4 linked regions of the Homo sapiens genome follow. The protein of the gene in region 1 interacts with the protein of each later gene in a pairwise test. Each region holds a gene or a part of one and is shown in the gene's direction. Other genes may lie near its edges.

What was found.
Region 2: the proteins of RAB2A (region 1) and OTOS interact in a two-hybrid assay, tested with the Homo sapiens proteins (one large-scale study listed by BioGRID).
Region 3: the proteins of RAB2A (region 1) and MAPK6 interact in a two-hybrid assay, tested with the Homo sapiens proteins (one large-scale study listed by BioGRID and IntAct).
Region 4: the proteins of RAB2A (region 1) and MAPKAPK3 interact in a two-hybrid assay, tested with the Homo sapiens proteins (one large-scale study listed by BioGRID and IntAct).

Annotation. Positions count from the first base shown.
Region 1 is NC_000008.11:60,620,960-60,624,191, forward strand, and holds the end of RAB2A (ras-related protein Rab-2A), read left to right. Parts: 3' UTR 1-2,685; downstream 2,686-3,232.
Region 2 is NC_000002.12:240,138,463-240,141,952, reverse strand, and holds OTOS (otospiralin precursor), read left to right. Parts: upstream 1-1,294; 5' UTR 1,295-1,333; exon of another isoform or gene 1,334-1,448; coding exon of another isoform or gene 1,449-1,469; intron 1,470-1,508; 5' UTR 1,509-1,590; coding exon of another isoform or gene 1,591-1,626; coding exon 1,627-1,684; intron 1,685-1,864; coding exon 1,865-1,891; intron 1,892-2,598; coding exon 2,599-2,783; 3' UTR 2,784-2,927; downstream 2,928-3,490. UniProt on the Homo sapiens protein: May be essential for the survival of the neurosensory epithelium of the inner ear.
Region 3 is NC_000015.10:52,057,129-52,060,781, forward strand, and holds part of MAPK6 (mitogen-activated protein kinase 6), read left to right. Parts: exon of another isoform or gene 1-127; intron 128-1,504; coding exon 1,505-1,669; intron 1,670-3,653. UniProt on the Homo sapiens protein: Atypical MAPK protein. Phosphorylates microtubule-associated protein 2 (MAP2) and MAPKAPK5.
Region 4 is NC_000003.12:50,623,561-50,627,213, forward strand, and holds part of MAPKAPK3 (MAP kinase-activated protein kinase 3), read left to right. Parts: intron 1-3,653. UniProt on the Homo sapiens protein: Stress-activated serine/threonine-protein kinase involved in cytokines production, endocytosis, cell migration, chromatin remodeling and transcriptional regulation.

The DNA of each region.
Region 1 (3,232 bases):
TATTCATATCTATTTGCATTTGATTTCTAGGTCAATTGATGTGATTATTTTTGTTAAATGTTGTCTTGTGCCCTTAACTACGAACTGAATTGTATTAAACACTACAAAGTCATCTTGAGTATTTTAAATCGGTTTGTGTAGTTAGGTTTCCCAACATCTGTGGTTACCTAATGTTTAATATTATAGAACTGTCCTCAGAAACTTTGTCAATTTTCACGGCTATAAGGAAACAGAAGGACTCTTTTAATTCTGTATTTATCATTTACTTTCTGTATATATAGTTTAATAACCTGCTTGGGTGTAATTTGCCAAGCTTGAATTCTTTAATGCATTTGCATAAATTCTATACTGTTTAGAGCTTAAAGCTACAGAAGCATTGTTAGGAATTGCTTGGACACTGAATTTTAAACTTTTTGACATTGTTAACAAGCATGTTCATCTTTTCTTGTCACTAGTCCAAGAAAAATATGCTTAATGTATATTACAAAGGCTTTGTATATGTTAACCTGTTTTAATGCCAAAAGTTTGCTTTGTCCACAATTTCCTTAAGACCTCTTCAGAAAGGGATTTGTTTGCCTTAATGAATACTGTTGGGAAAAAACACAGTATAATGAGTGAAAAGGGCAGAAGCAAGAAATTTCTACATCTTAGCGACTCCAAGAAGAATGAGTATCCACATTTAGATGGCACATTATGAGGACTTTAATCTTTCCTTAAACACAATAATGTTTTCTTTTTTCTTTTATTCACATGATTTCTAAGTATATTTTTCATGCAGGACAGTTTTTCAACCTTGATGTACAGTGACTGTGTAAAATTTTTCTTTCAGTGGCAACCTCTATAATCTTTAAAATATGGTGAGCATCTTGTCTGTTTTGAAGGGGATATGACAATAAATCTATCAGATGGAAAATCCTGTTACAAAGTAGAAAAGCTTTAGTAATTTACTCAGTGTGGTGGTTTTATCCTTTTTTTCTTTTTCTCCCTTGGTCTATAATGAAATTGTTACAGCAGTGCAAAATAAAATCCTATGTATAAAAGTGTTCTTTTTTTTTATTATGACCACCTCTTTTTTAATGTATTTTTAGTCCACTTACAGCTTTTACATGGGTTTAAGCATGTTTTTTAAAAGGGTCAGAATGGTTAACACTCAACCCTTTTTAAAAATTTTGCTAAAATGCGACAAATCTCACCATACTGAAATTATTTTTGTTGATGGTGTAAGCAGTGTAAGCAAGTGTTTTCTCCTGAACTAGCACAAAAGCACTTATGCCTGAAAGAAAGCATAAAGAAGTTCTAACTCTGAAACTAACTACTTTCATTTCGCTCATGGCCTTCAACTTTCTACAGGTCTTCCCTGAAGATTCAGCAGTACTCTCTCAAAGGTTTGACAGTACTCTTGTGGGAAATCACCAAATGCTGTCATAGTTTTGTTTTAACTGTCTCCTTGAGGGCAGAGGGAAGGGTGAGAGAAAATCTGTTTTCATGGGTATTTGTAGTACAGCCTTTTTTTCTTTCAAGTGGCTGTATCAAATTCACTGGTCTTACTAATCACTGTCTTTACCAGTGAGTACAAAAAGTTAAGGCAACTAGGACAGGTACTGCTCTATACCAAGAAGAGAATGATTCTTTGGAAATTGTTATTTTTAAGCTTCTGTTAATTTTTCCAGAAGTTTAGTGCGTTTCTTTTCCATACTTTCTCCCCTAATTCTTTTATTTGAAGAAGAGAACTTAATGGCAAATAAACAACAAACCAGGACATGCATTTTAATACCCTAAGGAAAAATGGAACCCTCAAATATAACTCCTCCCACAACCACCCTAATGTGCCTCAGTCTGGGGCAGCAGGTGGACTTCTCAATAGTTCTTTTCCACATTCTCTACAAATCACATCTACCGTTAAGGAATATGTTATGAATCCTTTCTGTTAATTGAGAAAGCAATGTTATTGTCTGTGATTTCCAGTCTTTGCTCATTTTATTATCCCTGTCAAATAATGTAATATTGGTACCTGCAGTTGAATTTGTAATATTGTAATTGAATTTTTAGTTGATCTTCGATCAGTTTTTATAGCATCTATGGACATAGAAAATCAGTCACTGAAAAAAATAAACACAGCTTTCAATGTCTCACTCAACATGTAACATTCAAAATTGTGATCTTCATAAAGACATTGTTACCATTCGTCTTGCAAATTTAAGACAACTGAATGAAAAGCCAATTTTTTGAAAGAATGTGGCATATAATTAGATATACAACTGAAACAGGATATACAACTGCATACAATTTGTTTTTAATGATATTTTAAAATAGCCTGTTAGCAGGAAAATAGTCCCTATTTATCTGCTAATGGTCAAAAAGAGTTAGGATATAAATCGTACCAAAATGTTTCCAATCACTCAGAAAAACTGATTCATGTCTGGCTTTGCAACACCTTAAACATTTATTCTGTCATAGATAGTAAAGCCCCATCTCAGTTTATTTAGTCCTGAGGTTGGCAGCATGGGGTTTGACTATATGAGCTAAAAGATACACAAAGAGATAACGCTGTTTCATAATAAACAGGAATTGACTATACAAATAGGTAAACCAGCATATCTACCTGTATTTCTCAGAGTTTAGATGTGTGCTTTATGTTTACATTAAAATAAAGCCTAACGCCACAGTAGATCATCTCATACTGCATTCGGATGTACTAGGTATTATTATTTTTTGGTTGAAGTCACGACAGAGAACTTCATTTTATTTATTTTGTTTATTTTGGGAGACAGGTCTCACTCTAATCCCCCAGGCTGGAGTGCAGTGGCGCCGTCTTGGCTCACTGTGACCTCCACCTCCCCAGGTTCAAGTGATTCTCATGCCTCAGCCTCCCAAGTAGCTGGGATTAGAGGTCCCTGCCACCACGCCCGGCTACTTTGTATTTTTAGTAGAGACGGGGTTTTGCCATGTTGGCCAGGCTGGTCTCAGACTCCTGACCTTAGGTCATCTGCCCACCTCAGCCTCCCAAAGTGCTGGGGTTACAGGTGTGAGCCACCATGCCTGGCCAAAAACTAAGTGCCAGTCTATATATTAGTATTAATTAGTTTTACAAAATTATGAGGCCAATTCTTAAACATTGAAGGACAAAGCACCAAACTCCTGATAGAAAAATGGAGGAAAATGAGCAATTTACAAAAAACATACAAAGTGTCCCTAAAATGCATTTTTAATTCAAATGTGAGTGATGGATACA
Region 2 (3,490 bases), on another chromosome or scaffold:
CTGCCCCTAAGCTCTATGTGCCAACAAATGGTTGTGCTAAGCACCTGCTTCCTCCTGGGGGTCGGAGATCTGCACATGCACGAGTCAGAGGGGGCTGCACGACCAGCCCTGGGCTCTGAGGTTCTGAAGGGCTCCCCTCATGGGGAGATTCCACAGGTGTCACCACAACGTGGTGCTGGGGAATGGAGAGCATCCCGTGGGGTCCTCGAGAGGATGCTGAGTCCCACGAGTCCTCCTAGGGCATCTTCCTAGTGAATCATTGACCTGGGTGCTCTTGGTGACCCCGAATACAACTGCCCTGAAAGAATCCATTGCCTCCTGTAGCCACAGGCTCCAGATTTCTGAAAAGGAAACCCAAAATCTAATCCGTGGATGGCTGCCTTACCATCTGAATTAAATTAACCACCTCTCTGGGTATCTTTGGTTAAATGTATGGCATTGTGTGGGGAAAAATGAGCCCTTAATCATTTGGATGGGGACATGTGAGCAGACTGTGATGAACTCCAGAACCATGGGACACATGGGTGAGGAGCTTCCCAGAGTCCTTAAACAGCCCCCAGGGTGACCAGGAATGACAGGGGAGACCGCCACAGCAAATTCGGCCCCTGATTCAGTGGGGTGGCGGGACCCCAAGGAGCAGGACCAGGAGGAGGCTCTATGTACTGGAAAGACAGGTCAGCATAGGAACCGATGTGGTCAGTGGGGCAGCTGTGTAGTCAGAATGGCCCTGCCCACAGAGACCCTTGGTGCTGGCTGCTGGTGTCCCAGGGTGGGGACAGCCTCCTGCCCACCTACAGACTGACACTTTGGATCGCAGGGAAGCTCCCACCTGGAGATGGAAGTCCATCTTGACCCCACACTTTCTGCTGGGGCTCTGCTCAGTGGACGTCCTGCAGGCAGGTCCCGCTGACGGGGGCTCCTCCTGCCTGCTGGTTTAAGTGGAAGCAGCGCTGGAATTATTCAGCTCCTCCTCACGAGGGAGGAAATCTCAGCCAGCCCCGGTATTGGACGTAGGATCGCTCCTTGCGGAGAGTAAACTGGGTTTGTTTCAAGTACCAATGCTGAATTCAGTCCTAACAATTTCAGAAATGGCCGAGCCAAGATGTTTTTCTCTCAGTTTGAACTTTGGATCAGATTCCCAGAAATTGACACTCTGATTGTGCCTGCCAGCAGGGCGACAGGAGCCCACAGTCCTCCGGTGGGGATGAAATATTCAGTTTGACTGTTCAGGCAGGTGACGTGTCCTTCCTCATCTGCAGCCCTTCTATAAAGAGGACTCTTGAGCTGGCAGCAGAGCCCATCCAGGCAGCACGGCTGGCTGAGCAGAGACAAGGTAAGCTCTGGAGAGGCCAGGCAGAGTGGAGGGGGGTGCAATTTCTTAAGTCATGGGAATTAAGGCCAATTGAGGCAGGGATTTCACCTCCAAATAGTGGTTTGAAACCACTGAAATGGAAATTGCTAGGAAAACAGTAAGAATTTTTTTTTTAAATCCATGCCATTTTCCCCAGGGCTGCCCACACTGGGACTGGTAGAGGAAGCCGGCCCTGACGGATGGGTGGTCTCGCCCTTCCTGGGTTCATCCTGCTGCAGGTGGGCCTGAGTCGCAGATCAGGAAGCACCGGGAAGATGCAGGCCTGCATGGTGCCGGGGCTGGCCCTCTGCCTCCTACTGGGGCCTCTTGCAGGTGAGGGGCCGCTCTGGAGGGAGGCAGCCACCAGGACCCCCGACAGCCCTCCTGTTCTCTCCCCTCCCGCATGCATCCCCAGGCTGCTAGGAAACCTTAGAGCCCTGCAGCTGGTGTCGGGTGGGCCCAACCGGCACCTGGGTGGTCCTCCTGGGTGACAGCTCTTCTCTTCCTTTGCAGGGGCCAAGCCTGTGCAGGAGGAAGGAGGTACCGTTCTCCAATTTCTTTCCTTTCATTTGCATAAGTAACTGGTATGCAGCGGGGAGAAACTGCTGGGGAGAGCAGCAGCTTCTTATCCCAAGCAGACGCATCAGGGGCCCTGGCTCAGCTCAGGCCCAAGCATGGAAAACATGGCCCTTGAGAGCCAGCTTGGAGCTGTGCAAGCAGAGGGTCTATGAGCTCCTTCCAGCTGGGACCCTGCCCTCCAGCCACCAGGGAACACACTGGGCAGGGGGAGCCAGGGCCCCATGACCCCTGACATTCCCACTATCAGACCTGGGTTCCAGCCCCCAGGCCCTCCCAACTCTGAGCCCTAGCTCAGTCCAGTATCTTCAGGGCTGCTCTTGCCCAAGCTTTAGGACAGGTTATACGGGGGGTAGCGGAGTGGGGTGTCTGTGCTCTGTTCTGAAATCCCAGCAGGTGGCTGCTGGTGCCCCACACCCTCCCCACACAACTCCTTCCTCAAACAGGACAGGGCTTCCCTCCCTCTCTTCCCCTTCTTCTTCTTCCTCTGTCTCCCCGACCAGATATCCCCAAGGATCTGAGAGGGGATGGGCTCAGGCCCCCACTCTGGGAAGGTTGTATCACTGTAGGTAGAGCTGGGAACCATCCACTTGCCTTGAGACCTCTGAGGATGGTGTCTCCAGGCAGGACCATGGGGACAGCCCCCAAGGCAGGTGTCTTGTGTCTTTCAGACCCTTACGCGGAGCTGCCGGCCATGCCCTACTGGCCTTTCTCCACCTCTGACTTCTGGAACTATGTGCAGCACTTCCAGGCCCTGGGGGCCTACCCCCAGATCGAGGACATGGCCCGAACCTTCTTTGCCCACTTCCCCCTGGGGAGCACGCTGGGCTTCCACGTTCCCTATCAGGAGGACTGAATGGTGTCCAGCCTGGTGCCCGCCCACCCCGCCAGGCTGCACTCGGTCGGGCCTCCACAGGCATGGAGTCCCCGCAAAAACCTGGCCCCTGCAGGAGTCAGGCCTGGTCTCACGCTCAATAAACTCCGGACTGAAGATGCACAACCAGCGTTGTGGGTTGTCTTTCAAGGACAGCTGCGCTCAGGCCCCACTTACTTTATTTCACAAATGAAGCTGGTTTTATTTTGATTCCTGGGGAGCACTTTCATAAACTCTTTCATAAATGTGCAACATTTCCATCCACATTGGCATCAACAAGGGATTTTATATCCTGGGCAGGCTCAGGACTGGCTTTCTGTGTCTCTCACTCATCCATTTCCCACAATGATCCTAGGGGGCACTGCAGTTCCCCCAGATTACGGGTGAGGAAACTGAGGCAGAGACATGCGGTCACAGCCTGACTTGTTAAGGTCACACAGCTGGTTAGGGGGTAGCTAGATTCTAGTCCAGGCACCCCCGCTCTGGGCCACTAAGCTGGGCAGCACACAAACCCACAGTCAGGGCTAGGCTGACTCCACACCATGACACACCCCTGGGAGCAGTGCCCAGGAGGCAGCAGGAAACGGAACTGAGAAACCCCACCTGTATCTGTCATCGGTCAGGGACAGCGGGGCCTGGGCAGGCTCTGTCTTCCAGGGACGGCTCTAGGCTTTGAGGATGCTGGGAGG
Region 3 (3,653 bases), on another chromosome or scaffold:
GTTACTGTCACTCTTACTATCCCTCCCCCGGTCCAGTCAGCCATTATGTCTCTCCTGTTAGAAGGACCTTCTCTTTCCTGCTTCAGTATTTGCTGTCTTTAGTTACCACATCGCAGCCAGGGTGGTCCTGTTGAAAGACAAGGTAGATCATGTCATCTCTGCTCAAACTGCATGATGGCTTTCCATCAAACTCAGGGTAAAGCAAACCCTTTGTTCTAGTACCACTCTGACTTATCTCCCATTATCTGCCCCAAGCTACTCTCCTTTTGCTACACTTGTCTAATTGTTGTTTCTTTGACATACCAACCTGCCTCTGTCTTCTGGGCTTCTCTCCATCTTCCTAGAACTCCTTTCTTTCTTCCATATGAATGTTTGGTGTATTCCTGACTTCCTTAATTTTCCACTTCTTAGTGAGGCCTTCCTTTGTCTCAAAAAAAAAAAAATGTCTTATTGTTGCCCAGGCTAGAGTGCAGTGACATGATCTTGGCTTACTGCAACCTCCTCCTCCAGGGTCCAAGCAATTCTTGTGCTTCAGCCTCCCAAGTAGCTGGAACTATAGGCATGCGCCTTGCCTGGCTAATTTTTGTATTTTTGGTAGAGATGGGGTTTTACCATGTTGGCCAGGCTGGTCTCGAACTCTTGACTTTAAAAAAGTATTAACAACCCTATTCTTCCCAACAGTGCCATCACCCTTAGCTTACTCTCTTTTTCTTTATAGCATATGTCACCATAAGACCTACTTTACAGAATTATCTGTCTTTATCCACAAGATTGTAAGATCCATGAAGGCAGGCACTTGGTCTGTTTTGTTTCATAACTGTATTCTCAAGTGTCCTGCGCATAGTAGGAACTAAAAGGAATTTTGAATGTTCAATGAATTTATAGACATTAAAGGAAAGGCAAGTGGAATTTTTATTTTTTGTTTTTGAGACAGGGTCTCACTCTGTCATCCATGCTGGAGTACAGCAAATGGAATTTTTAAAAGTCACCACCTATTTAGCCTAAAGTTTCCCCCTTTATTTCTTTCATTGCCTAACAACCTAGAAATGCTAACTGAGCCCTAACATAGAACTATAAAACTTCCTGTTTTACAAGTCTAGTCCAACCCTTCATTTCATTGATGTTGAAATAAAGTCCTAAGAGATGTTAGCTATTGTCTCTGAAGTTATAGCCAGTAAATTAGTGGTACAGTTAAGACCAGAATCCAGATCTCTTGAATCTCAGTTGCTTTTTTTTTCACTAGTTTGTGATAACCTTAATATGAGACCAAACTTAAAGAGTCAGTTCCCTATGGAAACAAAGCAGCAAAAACTAAATACATCAGTAAGCAGAAATTGAAATAGATAAGTAGATTGGTGATAGTCAAAGCAATGAAACCTGCTGATGATACAATTCAAACTTTTCCCCCCACTGGTCATTATAATATTTAAATTAGTTTAGTATGTTTATTGTGAAATAAGTAAACATTGAGGAATGTGTTTTTTTGTTTGTTTTTTAACCTCAGGTGCACATGAACTTGAACAGATGCAGCTGATTTTAGAATCTATTCCTGTTGTACATGAGGAAGATCGTCAGGAGCTTCTCAGCGTAATTCCAGTTTACATTAGAAATGACATGACTGAGCCACACAAACCTTTAACTCAGCTGCTTCCAGGAATTAGTCGAGAAGGTATTGTGACTCGAGAGTAACCCTCACGTTAATGCCTGTGTGTGAGGCAGAATCTGTGTAGGGAAGCTGGAGCTTTTTATCCTTAGATATGGGGCTTTCTCCAAAATAGTCTTTAGACACTTAAGGTGTACGTAAAACTTCAACTCTCATTTTCCCTTTTTTTGTCCTGTTACTTGGGCTACGATCTGTTTTTTTGGTTCCTCTGAATCACTTTCCAGAGCAAGTAGCAAGTATTTTGAATATAGGCACTGGGGACAAAATCATGATGGCATTTTTTCCCTCAGATATACTTGGAACTCCTGTAAATGCCTGGATAAAAAGAAAGCTGCTGTATTTAATTTCAGCCGGTTTTGCAGGCTTTTCAGTAGTTCCACATTCTTAATCAGTCTTTGAGTCTGTCTGCACAAATTCCATTGCTAGCTCCCTTGCTCGTAACCCTGTAGCCACTGTCACAACATCCCTGTTCATATCTAAATGAGTCCTCTGTGGGAACACTTTATTTTTATTTTTTATTGAAAAATAGAGACAGAGTCTTCCCTGGGCTGGTCTTGAACTCCTGAGCTCAAGCAGCCTTTCTGCCTCAGCCTCCCACAGTGGTAGTATTACAGGTGTAAGCCACCACACCTGGCCAAGGAGCACTTTTAAAATGCTGAACTAGTAATTCTGAATTGGGAGGTGGAGTGGGGAACAGGGTGGGTGTCTGCATACCCTCTCTAAGGTGTGACTCTGCTCAGCCAGGTGAAGACACTGTGTGCAGTGATAACCTGGATCCACTTCAGAGTAGTTGTCACTAATCAAGAGGACGGTGCTGTTGAAGCATTTGTAACCTTGCTGTATAATGCTATTTGAATCTTTTTCGTACCCTCATTAGGGTGGGGACCATGTTTTAATCTTTGAATTAAACTGAATATTTGGCCACTGACTGGGGTTTATTAACCATTGAGCAAAGATCCTTGGTGGTCACATGTGGCAGCACTGTGCTTGCAAGCAAGTGAATGCAGAGTGGATGGAGTTTCTGAGACTAAAGATTTATCAATTGTATGCTCCATACTACTTTCTTCTTAACAGTGGAGTTTTATTTTGGGACAGAGCACATTCTGAGGCAGTGGCAACTTGGTAAAAAGAATACATGTTCTCACCCCACATTCTTTATGATCTTTGAAGGAAAAAAGCAAACAGGATTAAGTACATCTGAGTGAACGTATAAGACTCCTAGGAGCCCTACTCTGGTTAATTTCCCTCTATACTTACCTCTCATCCTTTCTGTAGTATACCATATATTTCTCTAAGCATGGTTCAGCACCATTGTAGCATTCCTGTAGTCCTAGCTGTTCAGGAGGCTGAGGCAGGAAGATTCCTTGAGCCCAGGAGTTCAAGGCTACAATGAGCTATGATCATGCTATTGCACTCCAGCCTGGGCAACCGCAAAGATGCTGTGTCTTAAAATTATCTTTCTAAAGAAAAGAAAAGGGTTCTTTCTAGAGTACAGGTTGGCTTGAGAGAGAAAGGCCATCTTTCTCACTTAGAAGGCAAGGATAAGAGGATGTGTGAGTGACCATAGTGAAGAGGTAGGGATTGAGACAAATGTGAAGTGGGTTTATCTGTTGAGAATGATAAAGAAGACCGAGAGCATAAAGAGAAGGCCAGATAGCAAAGGTCACAATGAAATTGTTTAGTATGAATTTGTAATGAGCCAGATATGGGATATTGCAGCTAGTTTTCATCAGTTTTGTGTGGCCAGGGAGCAGAGAGAGTAGATGGTGGTGGTGATCCAGGGTTGAAGGTTGATATCATAAGGCATAGAAGTGTGTGGCTGGTGTAAATATAGCTTTCAGGCTGCGTGAGGAACTAAGGAAGGCCTACTAGACTATTTTATGGGAAGAACTGGATTTGTGGTTAACCAGAGTCCTAAGATGTGCAAGGTCAGTGTGTGAACTATGCTGGAGTGTGATGTGAAGCAGAGATCAAGAAATTAGTACAACAG
Region 4 (3,653 bases), on another chromosome or scaffold:
ACGGCTAACAGTTTTTCAGAGCATTCTGCCCAGCGGGCCCTGTCCACAGTGCACAACAAGGCACAGAATGAGTTGTCTTACCTAACTCTTATCACTCCCATTATATGGATGAGGTTCAGAGGTCAGCAGCTTGCCCAAAGTGCTCAACTAGTGGGTAGCAGGGCTGAGCTGTGAGCCTAGGCAGTTTGATGCCAGAGTCCTAGCATCTAAGTCATCTCACTCCTCATGCAAGTCTGTGGGGACACGGGAGGGTCTCTGAGACTTGGTCCTTGGAAAGATGCTGGCATTGTCCTCTCTGGCTCCACTGGGAGCCCTGGCAGCCCCAGCTGGGCCCTGAGTGATGCTGCCAGTGTCTACCTACATCTGCTCAGTCCTCCTCACTGTATGGAACTCTGTGCCAGTGATTGGACAGGTGGCAGTCCCATGAGGCCAGCACACAAGGACCATGATGACTGTGAAGGCCACCTCAGAAAGGTCGTGTGCCTTTTCCCAGGCCTTGTGAGTCTCAGACAAGTGCAGCTGGGCAGAGCCCAGAGCACCACGGGCAGGAAATCAGACTGGTGAGTGGGCGAGTGGAAACTGTATCTGGGCTGGGCCAGCTAGGAGAGGCTTCCTGGAAGAGGTTGCCAGTTTAATTCAGACCTCTGGTTTGAGAAGGATGTGGATGACAGAGGAAGGCACAGGGTGTATGTGTGTGCCTGTGTGTGTGTGCACTCACGTGTGTGTGTGTGTGTGTGTATGTGTATGTGTGTGTGCATGTGTGTGACAATATGCCTGGTTTAGACATTCAGCACCTGCTGTGGAGTACCAGTTTCCCACTCGCAGACCTGTGTTCTGGCAGGATGTGGTTGACCTCAGCAGGGCCGGTGTCAAAGTCCTGACAAAGACTGGGAAGCTGAGGGAGGACCAGAGGAATCTGTGGAGGAAGAGGCGTTTGTGTAGGGCCTTGAAGGGTAGAGCACCATTGCTGAGGGTGCTGCAGGGACTCCTGGGTCACTTGGGCTGTTGTTCAGACTATATGGGAAGGACTCAGTTTTCATTACAACAGAGGTCTGTTGTATCTCTTCTGAGCTTCACACCTGGGGAAGTGGAGTTAGATCCCTCATTTTCCTCTGCTGGGGACATCATCATGGAAGATCTCTGGGTGGAGGCAGTAGTTGGAACATCTGGCTCTGTAAGCCCGCAACCTCCCTTGGCTCCAGGCTGCCATGTCTAATGGTGAAGGCCCATGGGCAAGAGCTGAGGACATCCCTAGGTGAGAGGCATTCCAAGCATACCTGTGCCATGAGAGTGTGCACAAAGCGCTTCCTGGAGAGCTGGCTCTGCTGCTCTCAGGACAGTGAGACCATGGCTCCTGTGAGCACTGGTGTTTTCCCTGGAGAACATTAGTTCTACTGCTCTCCCTCCATCTATTGGACATCTTGTGTGGTCCCAGATGAAAGGCCCCATCTTGGGGTTGAGAGAGGAACAGTGCTCTCGGCTTAAAATGCTTTCTGTGACATTCTCCCCAAGTGACTTTGGACTAAAGGCAGTTTCATAATCTTTTGCAAAACCATCATCTTTGTGGTGCAGTTGAACCCTGGGTTTGAATATGTGGTGGGGAGTAGGATCCAGTCTCGGTGACTGTTACTATCCCTGCATTCATGCTATGAGACAACATAGGCCGGCAGACACTCAGAAGGCAGGGCTCTCATTTGGGGTGGCCTGGGTGCATTTGCTGGTGAAACATTATTGGTTTTTATGAGGACTCACTTGGGTGCGCCCTGCACCTGGGGAACCCAGCCCCTTGAGGGACAGGAAAGAATGGCGTGAAGGGAGCTCTGGGTCCTGGGCTCCTCCCCACCCTCCTGCCCGTTTGGAACTAAGTGGATTAGGCCCTGTGCAATTGTGATTAAAATCCTGCTGTGTGGGAACCGTGGAGGTTTGGCTTAGAGCAGGAACACGAGGCTCCCGTTTGGGGAACAAGGAGCCTCAGGAGGCCCTTTCAGCACTAGACAGGCCAGAGATGCTGAAAAGATTGCTTTTGTTTTTGAGGCGGGTTTGGGATTAGGGTTGCCTTTTTCTTTAGACTAGGGCTTTGTCTTTGCTGCCTTCTCCTCATGGCACTAGCGATCTTTCTGTCCTCTGCCTCCTCGTCCCTCTCATTTCTCCTTTTCCACCTGTTTCTCCTGCTATCGCTCTGTCCCCGCTCTCCCGGGCCTTGCCAGTTTGCCTGTCTCGTGTGTTTCAGGCCTCATGGCCTCTTTTCTGCAGCCTGGCAGGCTGAGGGCAGGCGGAGGACAGAGCAGGGCCAGGTCAGGTGCTAAGGACTCATCCTGGTCAGCGGGCAGCTCACTCCCCCACCCCCACCCCAGGGGAGGGTGGGGGTGGGGAAGGAAGGAGGAGTGAGTGCTGTACCCATGCCACTCACAGTGTCCCCTCCTGCTGCCCGCCTTGACCAGGTGTCAGCAGCCTTGGCAGTCAGAACAGTGGACTCAGGAGTTCTTGGGCTGAGCTGTAACCTGAGGAGGTCCCCCGCCACCCCCCCATGGCTTGTGTGAAGTCAACTTCAGCTGCAGTCTCTGCTGTTGGGTCTCCTTTTACGGCCCAATGGTCTGAGACTTTTGCTTGGGACAATTGTGTGGGACTAGGCACAGTACGACCCCCAAGGGTTCCCTAGCCACAGTGAGGTATAGACAGGGCTGAGATCTGACCTGAGTCAGAGCCTTAGAGCCAGCCAGAGGAGCTGGTGGGAGTCTGGGAGGGCTCAAGGTATGAGGTGCAACCTACCGCCATTTTTACAGAGGGCAGAGCTGAGTGTGAGCTGCACCTGCACTAGCTGGTGTGAACACTCAAGACTCTCTAGCTGGCACCCTGCACCTGACCACCCTTGCCCTGCTAAGGCTCAGAGGCTACATTCAGGGGCCTGAGGGACCAGGACCTTGAGCTGCCACACTCATTTCCCCATTCTTAAGGGTTCAGCCTCCACAAGAGACCCATAGCTCATCCACAGATGCTCACCCAACATTAACAGCCCCCTTCTCAGGATGTGGTAGAAGGACTGGCAGGTGTTCTCCGTGCTTTCTGGCAGGCAGTGGCACAGGGGGCAGGGGGATGGCAATAAGGGCACCCACTTGCTGAGTGCCTCCTACATGTCAGGCACAAACACTGCAGAATCAGAATGGATTATCACGCCCATGCCATGGATGCAGAGACAGGTTCAGAAAGGCAGAGTAACTCACCCAGGGTCACGTAGTATGGACATGGCCCTGTGCTGGAACCCAGGCCTGGCTCTCAGCCATTCCTCTCTGCGTGTGTGCTCCTCTGGGGATCAGGAGCCACAGTCTGCTCATCAGCAAAATGAGAGCCTGGGCCGGGCGCAGTGGCTCATGCCTGTAATCCCAGCACTTTGGGAGGCTGACGCGGGTGGATCACCTGAAGTCAGGAGTTCGAGATCAGCGTGGTGAAACCCCGTCTCTACTAAAAATAGAAAAATTAGCTGGGTGAGGTGGCACATGCTTGTAATACCAGCTACTTGAGAGGCTGAGGCAGGAGAATCACTTGAACCCGGGAAATGGAGGTTGCAGTGAGCTGAGATTGCGCCATTGCACTCTAGCCTGGGAGTCAAGAGTAAAACTCCATCTCAAAAAAAAAAAAAAAAAAAAAATGAGGGC